3 separate regions of the Homo sapiens genome follow, and regions 1 and 2 are each linked to region 3. The links come from fine-mapping of genetic effects on gene expression. A gene starts in region 3. Each other region holds a variant in brackets. All regions are shown on one strand. Distances are between the middles of the regions.

Evidence for each region. PIP is the estimated chance that this variant, and not a neighbour inherited with it, causes the effect. A credible set is the group of variants that fine-mapping cannot tell apart.
Region 1: its variant is the best candidate, but not a certain one, in a credible set for the expression of SLC6A13 in thyroid (GTEx, PIP 0.62).
Region 2: its variant is the best candidate, but not a certain one, in a credible set for the expression of SLC6A13 in whole blood (TOPMed, PIP 0.62).

The regions. Positions count from the first base shown.
Region 1 is chr12:212,185-214,942 of GRCh38, reverse strand. SLC6A12 (solute carrier family 6 member 12) reads left to right here and starts at 786. Exons shown (of 16, transcript NM_001122848.3): 1 at 786-1,021. RefSeq lists enhancers at 905-1,676, 2,388-2,437, 2,449-2,758. The variant C/T (reference allele first, on the strand shown) is at 1,472.
Region 2 is chr12:408,581-411,338 of GRCh38, reverse strand. CCDC77 (coiled-coil domain containing 77) reads right to left here. Exons shown (of 13, transcript NM_032358.4): 3 at 1,918-1,971. The coding sequence starts at 1,955. Among named protein-coding and RNA genes, the nearest start is that of CCDC77, 8.3 kb to the right of the region's middle. The variant T/C (reference allele first, on the strand shown) is at 1,710.
Region 3 is chr12:261,276-264,033 of GRCh38, reverse strand. It overlaps SLC6A13 (solute carrier family 6 member 13), which reads left to right and starts at 1,198. Exons shown (of 15, transcript NM_016615.5): 1 at 1,198-1,245.

The DNA.
Region 1 (2,758 bases), 49 kb after region 3:
CCCCTTAAGCACCTATGATATCCCTGCACCCTCACAGCAACCCCGCAAAGTAGATATTGTGTTGTTACCTACCTTTGACAGACTGGGAAACCAAGGCTGACCCTTGCCTAGCTGTCGTGACTGATACATGATAGAGGAGGAGAAGAAACTCAGGTCTGTCTGGTCCCAATCCTGGGTCCTCTCTACATTGCTTCTTGAGGTACGCTCTGGGTGCTTTCTCTAGGAAAATCCCAAGGAGAAGGGTTGTGAAGGTCCAGGGCCTTGCCTAGAAGCCACAGAGGGCAGGTACTTGGTGGAAAACTCCAGCGTGTGATTCACCCTCCTCCCTTGCCCTCGTCAGTGAGGTCACCTCCCCTCCCAAGGTTCTCAGTTTATAGCCTGGAGTCTCTGGTAAGAGAGGGCTGTCCCCTGTGCTGCACATACCCGTCTCCTCATCCCTGGGAAGGAGATGGTTCTGGAGGGGGATAGGGGAAAAGGGGGAAGGGGGAAGGGCAAGGAGGAGGAGGAGGGGAGATGAGGTCAGGGTGTGAGTCTCTGAGCCCCTTCCCCTGCCCAAGGGAGCAGCAGCTCAGCCCAGCTCTGGAGGGGCCATCATGGGACTGTGCCCACGGGGAGGGCACCGGTCTGGAGACAGTGGGTTCACAGTGGGAGTGGGATGGGGGTGGGAGCGCTGGGGACAGAGGACTTGACTTCCTGAGGTTGGATGTTGTAATCTCGGTTCACAAACTTTTGGCCTCAGTCCCTCCTGCTGCTCCTGGTATTTCTCTGTCCTTTCACTCCCCAACACACACAGCCCCCGCCCCAACACATACACACACGGCTTCTTTCTGTCTGGGAGTCCCTGGACAAGTCACATGGGATTCTGCGCTGGGAGGAACAGGGTAAGGCGTGAACGTGGAGGGCAGTTTCCCTTTCAGGTCCCGGCTCTCTTGGCTTTCCCATAAGCAGCTGCCTTGGGACTCTCCTGGAGACCTGATGCCCACAGCCAAGCTGACCACAGGAGCCGGTGCTGGGGACTGAGGTGAGCGGGAAGTGGAGGGGCTGGCTCTGTCTTTGCAGTCTCCAACTGCTGCTCAGAGGGGCTGGAGGGATAGAGCCCTGGGAAGCGAGACTCTGTGGAACTGCGTGTCTGCAGCGGGGGGCAGGACCTGCAATAACCTCAGGCCAAAGGGCAAGTCTGATGCCCACGACTCTCAGGACAAGGGGTGCCCCCTAGCTCCGCCCCATCCAGCGTGGGAGCAGCTCAGTGATTAGCCTGTGGAGCAGGAAAGTCCAGCGATGGGCAGCTGGTCACGGCAGTGGGTGAAAGCAGGGGTGGTCATCTGACGAGGGGAGGGGAAGCAGGTGGTGCCCAGCAAGGTGGAAGGAGAAGTGGACAGGAGAAACCTCGGGGCATTCCCGAGGGCCCAGGAACTGCAATAAATGATCACAGGTGAGGGGTTCCTGCCCGCTGCCTGCCGGCTGAGCGTGA[C/T]GAGCTGGGTGCCAGGCGCCTCCCAGGAGGAAGCTGTCTTGGCTTTGGGCGGTGGATGCTATGGGTGTGCTTGTACCCGAGGGGGGCACTCAGGGGAGTTGCAGGCAGCCACCAGCTGAGACCGGCACTCACGGGGTGTGAAGGACTACAGAGAGAGCCAGGTTTTGGTGCCATGCACACAGGTATGTGTGTGCGAAGGGACGTGACGGGAAATGGCACCAGTGTGTGTATGGGAATGGGTGTTGGTATGTGGGTGTGGACTGAAGCAGGGGCTGGGTGTCCCATCCCCCCGTGTGCAGGGTCTGAGCTATTCCTATGCTGGACTGGGGAGCAAAGGGGACAGAGCTGGGATCCCAGCAGCACATGGGCAGCAGCATTTCTGGTCTCGTCTGCACCTCTGCTAGCCCCAGCTGGGCCTCTGGCGACATGCCCAGCTCCTGAAAACAGACTTAACTTTGGACTTTCTAGTCTCTTGAAGATTTGCTCTCTGGGCAGCACCAAGCCCGGTGTGGAAATTGGTGTGTTTGCTTCTGGAGGGCACTGAAGTATGATGAGGCCCATCCCCCACCCCTCACCCCCCTGTCCCGGCTTAGCAAAGCAGGTGGGCGGCCTTGGAGGAGACTCGAGGGGCTGGAGAGGCGGCCAGCCGAAGCTGGAGGTGGAAGGGCACAGCGGGGGTGGGGTGTGTAGTCCTTTGCCTTTTAAAAGTAGCCCAGAAAGGAGAACTCAGTACAGCTTGTTTTGGTGTCTAACATCCTCTGGGCCATTTCTTCCCTGAGTCTAACTTAAATCCCTCTTGCTGCAGTTTAAGCGTGTTCCCTCTTGAGTTACCACGGCTCGGGGCCAGCTGTCCTTTTCACTTGCTCTTGCTTTCATTCTGCCGTTCTGGATTTTCATTCTGAACCACAAGTTACGCTCCTCCCGATTACTTTTTTATTTTCATTTTTATTTTTAAAAAATCATGTTGCGTCAGTGTCGGTTCACCAGCTCATGTTCTCTTTTTGCACTTCCCCTATTTCTGATGAAACCCAAATCCTGGGCCCAAACTGGATTCTGTGATTCGCTTCCCTGCCCCTGCGCCCCTCCGGCTTTCCCTTCATTTACTCCTTCCCCCAGCAAGCCTCCACTCTCCCAGCCCTTGAGACCACCTTGGTCCTGCCACAGCTGCCTGTGGTCTGGAAACAGTAAGGCTCATTTCTGACCACCGCCCTAAGGGCCCTTGTGCTTGGGGCTCGCCCTGGGATTAGCAACGCTATGGCCCGCGAGTAGAGGCGGTCAGTTCTCCGT
Region 2 (2,758 bases), 150 kb before region 3:
AGATGGGTGTGGCAGTGCACGCCTGTAGTTCCAGCTACTCGGGAGGCTGAGGCAGGAGAATCGCTTGAACCTGGGAGGCAGAGGTTGCAGTGAGTCGAGATCATGCCATTGCACTCCAGCCTGGCGACAGAGCGAGACTCTATCTCAAAAAAAAAAAACAAATTGAAAGTTTGATATTACAGGATAGTAAATAATTTTATTAATTATCTTCCAAGTACTAATGGTTTAAAGCTGGATTCAAAATACATGTTAGAGCCAGGAATGGTGGCACAGCTGAGTAGCTGAGCAGTCCCAGCTACTCAGGGGGCTGAGGTGGGAGGATCGCTTGAGCCTAGGAGTTCCAGTCCAGCCTGGGCAACATAGCAACACCTTGTCTCTAAAGTAAAAATAAAATCCATTAGAGACGAAAAAGATAATTTAAAAAAACAGAATATAAACTAAGGGAGACCATGTAGTAACAATTAGAAAATGTAGTACCATAAGACATATTGCAGGCCGGGTGCAGTGGCTCATGCCTGTAATCCGACCACTTTGGGAGGCCAAGGCGGGCAAATTAGTTGAGGTCAGGAGTTCAAGACCAGCCTGGCCAACATAGTGAAACCTAGTCTCTACCAAAAATACAAAAATTAGCCGGGCCTGGTGGCACGCGTGTGTAATCCCAGCTACTCTGGAGGCTGAGGCAGAATAATTGCTTGAACGCAGGAGGCAGGTTCAAGTGCCGAGATCACGCCACTCCAGACCAGCCTGGCCAACATAGCGGAACCTAGTTTCTACCAAAAATACAAAAATTAGCCTGTAATCCCACCACTTTGGGAGGCCAAGGTGGGCAGATTACTTGAGGTCAGGAGTTCAAGACCAACCTGGCCAACACAGCAAAACCTAGTCTCTACCGAAAATACAAAAATCAGCCGGGCCTGGTGGCACGCGTGTGTAATCCCAGCTACTCGGGAGGCTGAGGCAGGAGAATCACTTGAATCTGGGAGGCAGACGTTGCGGTGAGCCAAGATCATGCCATTGCACTCCAGCCTGGGCAACAAGAGCAAAACTCCATCTCAAAAAACAAAAAAAAAACAAAAATAGTACAGAAGAAGAGAAACCCTCCTGTGAAAATAAATCCAATTTGGTTGTCTGCAATTTATAACATAACAAAATAGTACAGTGGAGAAACTATACCAGAAGCTCTGAGTTATAGTTAATATATGTGCTCACTTGTAATAAATAAGCATGCAGAGATATTAAAATCTGTCAACTAGCATGAAGAAAAACTTAAACATTTTCCCAGTGATTAAAAACTTGTGAGAGAAATACTAGTTTACTTAACATTTCTTTTTTTTTTTTTTTGAGATGGAGTCTTGCTCTGTTGCCCAGGCTGGAGTGCAGTGGCGTGATCTGAGCTCACTGCAACCTCCACCAACTGGGTTCAAGCAATTCTCCTGCCTCCGCCTCCCAAGTAGCTGAGATTACAGGTGCACACCACCATGCCCAGTTAATTTTTTTTTTTTTTTTTAGTAGAGACGGAGTTTCACCATGTTGGCCAGGCTGGTCTCAAACGCCTGACCTTGTGACCTGCCCACCTCAGCCTCCCAAAGTGCTGGGATTACAGGAGTGAGCCACCGTGCCCGGCCAACATTTCATATTTTCTAAAGGGGATGTCTCAGGCTGGGCACAGTGGCTTATGCCTGTAATCACAGCACTCTGGGAGGCTGAGG[T/C]GGGAGGATTGCTTGAGTGCAGGAGGTCAAGGCTGCAATGAGCAATGATTGCACCACTGCACCCCATCCTGGGCACAGAGTGAAACTCTGTCTCAAAGAAAAAAAACTTTAGGAAATATGTTTCCAATACCTTTCCAGTTCCTATGCTTAGACTAAGGCTATACAAGTCTCGATTTCTTAACAACTTGAAAATAAGCAAATGTCTTACTTTCTGCAGACAGGGGTGTGTGTTGGGGTAAAGTTCATGCTGTCTTTTTCACACCTATCAAATACACAAAAATTCATAATTACGGGCCACGAATAGAAAAATAAAAACAGTACAGGATTAGACTGGTTCCCTCTTCAACATCATCATATTTGCTTCTTGGAAAGAATCTGATGTTTTAAAATGTAGTTTTTTTTTTCTTTTTTTTTTTTTTGAGACAGTGTCTCACTCTGTTGCCCAGGCTGGAGCTGGAGTGCAGTGGTGTGATCTCGGCTCACTGCAACCTCTGCCTTCTGGGTTCAAGCGATTCTCCTGCCTCAGCCTTCCAAGTAGCTGGGACTACAGGTGTGCACCACTACGCCTGGCGAATTTTTGTTATTTTTAGTAGAGACAGGGTTTCACCATATTGGCCAGGCTGGTCTCGAACTCCTGACCTTGTGATCCACCTGCCTCGGCCTCCCAAAGTGCTGGGATTACAGGCGTGAGCCACCACGCCCGGCCTAAAATGTAGTATTCTTTAAAGTATCTCCAAATCCTGAAATTCATGCCTTTTGAATTTTCAAAAGGTACTCCTCATAATTATTTTCAAATAAAAATCAGAATGGCATTGAATATTTAAATGGATAAGCACACAAAGTAGAAAAGTCTCCTTGTTATCTGCAACAACACAAAAACAAATCTACAATCTTTTCCTTGAAGTTATAGGATAGGAGGAGAAGATGCAGAAAAGTCTCTAATAAGCAAGAAACAGTACATAGAGCGAGGTGCAGTGGCCCGTACCTATAGTCCCTGCTACTCAGGAGGCTGAGGAGGGAGGATCCCTTGAGCCCAGGAGTTCAAGGCC
Region 3 (2,758 bases):
CCACACTTCTCCGTCATCTCAAGATGTCTCTATCACCTCACTCACTCATTGCCGCATCCCCTACCTAACTCATTCTCACAGTCTGGCCAGAGCCCAGCTTAGCTCAGGGGTCTCTCAGTCCCGTCTCCTTCAAGAAGACTTCCGGGCTCACTGCTCACTGTGAATAATCCCTTAAGGATGAATAACAGCTGCCATTTACAGTTAGTCATCATCTCCTGAAATCTCAAGCTAGACAGTGGCATACGTAGGACTCAGACCCCACACTCTCTGGTGTCAAAGTCTGAGCAGGTTTCCACTACATGTACTGTGCTTCAGCACATGGCTGAGGTGGGACTCTGCCCTGTCCTAGACTCCAGGCTGAATGAACTACTCTCACAGCCGCCTCTGTGGGCTGTTCCTGCAGAGAAACGAAGCTCCCTGGATGACCTCGGCCTCGCGCTCACCGCCTGCTCCTTCCCTTATAACAGCTTTAGGGCTTTGCTTTATTTTAAACGTTGGCACTTCCTTTTCTCTATTGATTTAAAAAATATTTTAAAATTCTAGCATATTAAAAAATCTAAACAATATTGAAAAAGTGGGGAAAAAATCTCCCTTACTGCCATCTCCTGATCTCAGTTCCACTCTACAAATGTAACTACTATTAATCATTTAGCGAAGATTTTTTCAGACTTTTTCTATATGTGTATAAATGTCTGTGTATGTTTGGGAAGTTTTTCTGACATCTCAGAGTTCTGTATCTATGTATCTTTGTTCTAAATCATCGTCCATTCCACATTGCAAGCTGCGAAACGGTAAGATAAATGTATTTTTAAATTAATCTACACAGCACCTGACCAAAGGAATACCTATTCTTGATGGATTTATAGGAGCACTTGTGTTGGAGACAGGGGTGGGAGGCAGGATCCCTCCAGAGAGACCCTGAGCTCACCAGGTGGGAAGCGCACATGAGCTCCGGGGAGGAGACCACACTTCATAAGCTCACCAGCAACTGGCCCGACCTGCCAGGGCGTGCACACTCCCCAGACTGCGAAATCACTCATGTGTGGGTTGTCCAGTGGCCGAGGGGAGGGGAGGGGAGAAAAGGGGAGGGGGAGGCACAAGGGTGGAATGTGGGCTGGGCCAAGTTTAGAATTTCAAGTGCCACAGAGGCGTTCTGGAACCACACTTTAAATAGCCAGCACCTTCTCCTTCCCCCTTAGATAATTCTTCTCCCCTGACTGGACCTCTGGCAGCAGCTTCACTAAGGTTCGAAATGTTTTCTTCTCTTTTTTTTCTATTTCTGCGTCTCAGACTGCAGGTTGGTGGGATCCATGGGACTTACAACCAAAGGACTTTTTTCTTACCCTCGCCTAGAAAGTACGCTTCTGACATGTATGTGTGCAAATGCAAAGATTATGTGCTATTTTCTTGACTTTCTGAAACTTGGGTGGCTGTTGACTTAAGTGACACTGTGATTTGGAAAGAGAGAGCCCTAGATTGAGAGGAAAGACAACTGGATTTAACTCCAAGAAAACAAAGTCTTTCTTCTCTGAGAAAAGAGAACAATGATCAACTCTGACAGGACTGAAAGAAAACAAAAATTTGAGTACCTGTTATTCTATTAAGTGTGTATACATATGTATATTTCCTCATTTAATTCTTATAGCTAAGTATATCCTATCTATCATCCCCACTTTTACAGATGAACAAACTAAGGCTCAGAGTCATTCATTAACTTCTCTGAAGTCAGACATTGGTATGAGAAAAAACTAATGTTTGAACCTGGCCTCATCTGACTCTACAGCTCATGACCTTTCAGACACAACATGCTACCTCTGAGAAGCAGCTCTAATGAGGCTAAGGGAGCCAGGAGAAGGCTACTGTTTCTCCTAGGGTCTGGGAGGGTGGAGAAGGGAAGGCTTTCCATCACTGGGAGAGATCCATCAGCTGGTAAAGGGAGGGGAGGCCAGCACAGTCAGTACCTTAGACAACCTTCCCAAAAGGACTGAGGAGCCCTCTTGGGACCAGTTACTTGAGTTTCTCCTTTGTAGAAAGGAGCTCATTCCCTAATTTATCAGATAAACATAGATGCCTGCTGTTCCCTGACTTTTTTTTTTTTTCTTTTTTTTGAGACAGAGTCTCGCTTTGTTGCCCAGACTGGAGTGCAGTGGCGCGATCTCGGCTCACTGCAACCTCTGCCTCCTGGTTTCAAGCGATTCTCCTGCCTCAGCCTCCTGAGTAGCTGGGATTACAGGTGCCTGCCACCATGCCCAGCTAATTTTTGTACTTTTCGTAGAGACGGGGTGTCACCATGTTGGCCAGGCTGGTCTCAAACTCCTGACCTCAGGAGATCCACCCGCCTCGGCCTCCCAAGTGCTGGGATTACAGGCGTGAGCCATTGCACCCGGCCTGTTCACTGACTTTCTAATTTTCTGGGTCAGAGCCAAAGTAGAGTCTGTGGCCAGAAGAGGTTACTGCTGAGAAAGTTCTGTTAACATGAACTTTGCTTGAGGCTTAGAAAAAAGTCCATCTGCCTCCTTCTCCAGAAAAGAGGCCACTCTGCAAAATCAAGGCAGAGTCATTAGAAGATGCTTTTAGTAGACACACCAGTGAACCTAGGCAGCCAATGTAATCAAAGGGATGGAACTGAAAGAGCAGGGGCAGAGTGGGTTTAAGTCCTGGCTGTGCAAGTTAGTAGCTATATGGCAGCAGCAGTCACATTATTTAACCTCTCTGAGCTGCAACTTCCTTATTTATAAAGTGGAGGTAATAATGCTTA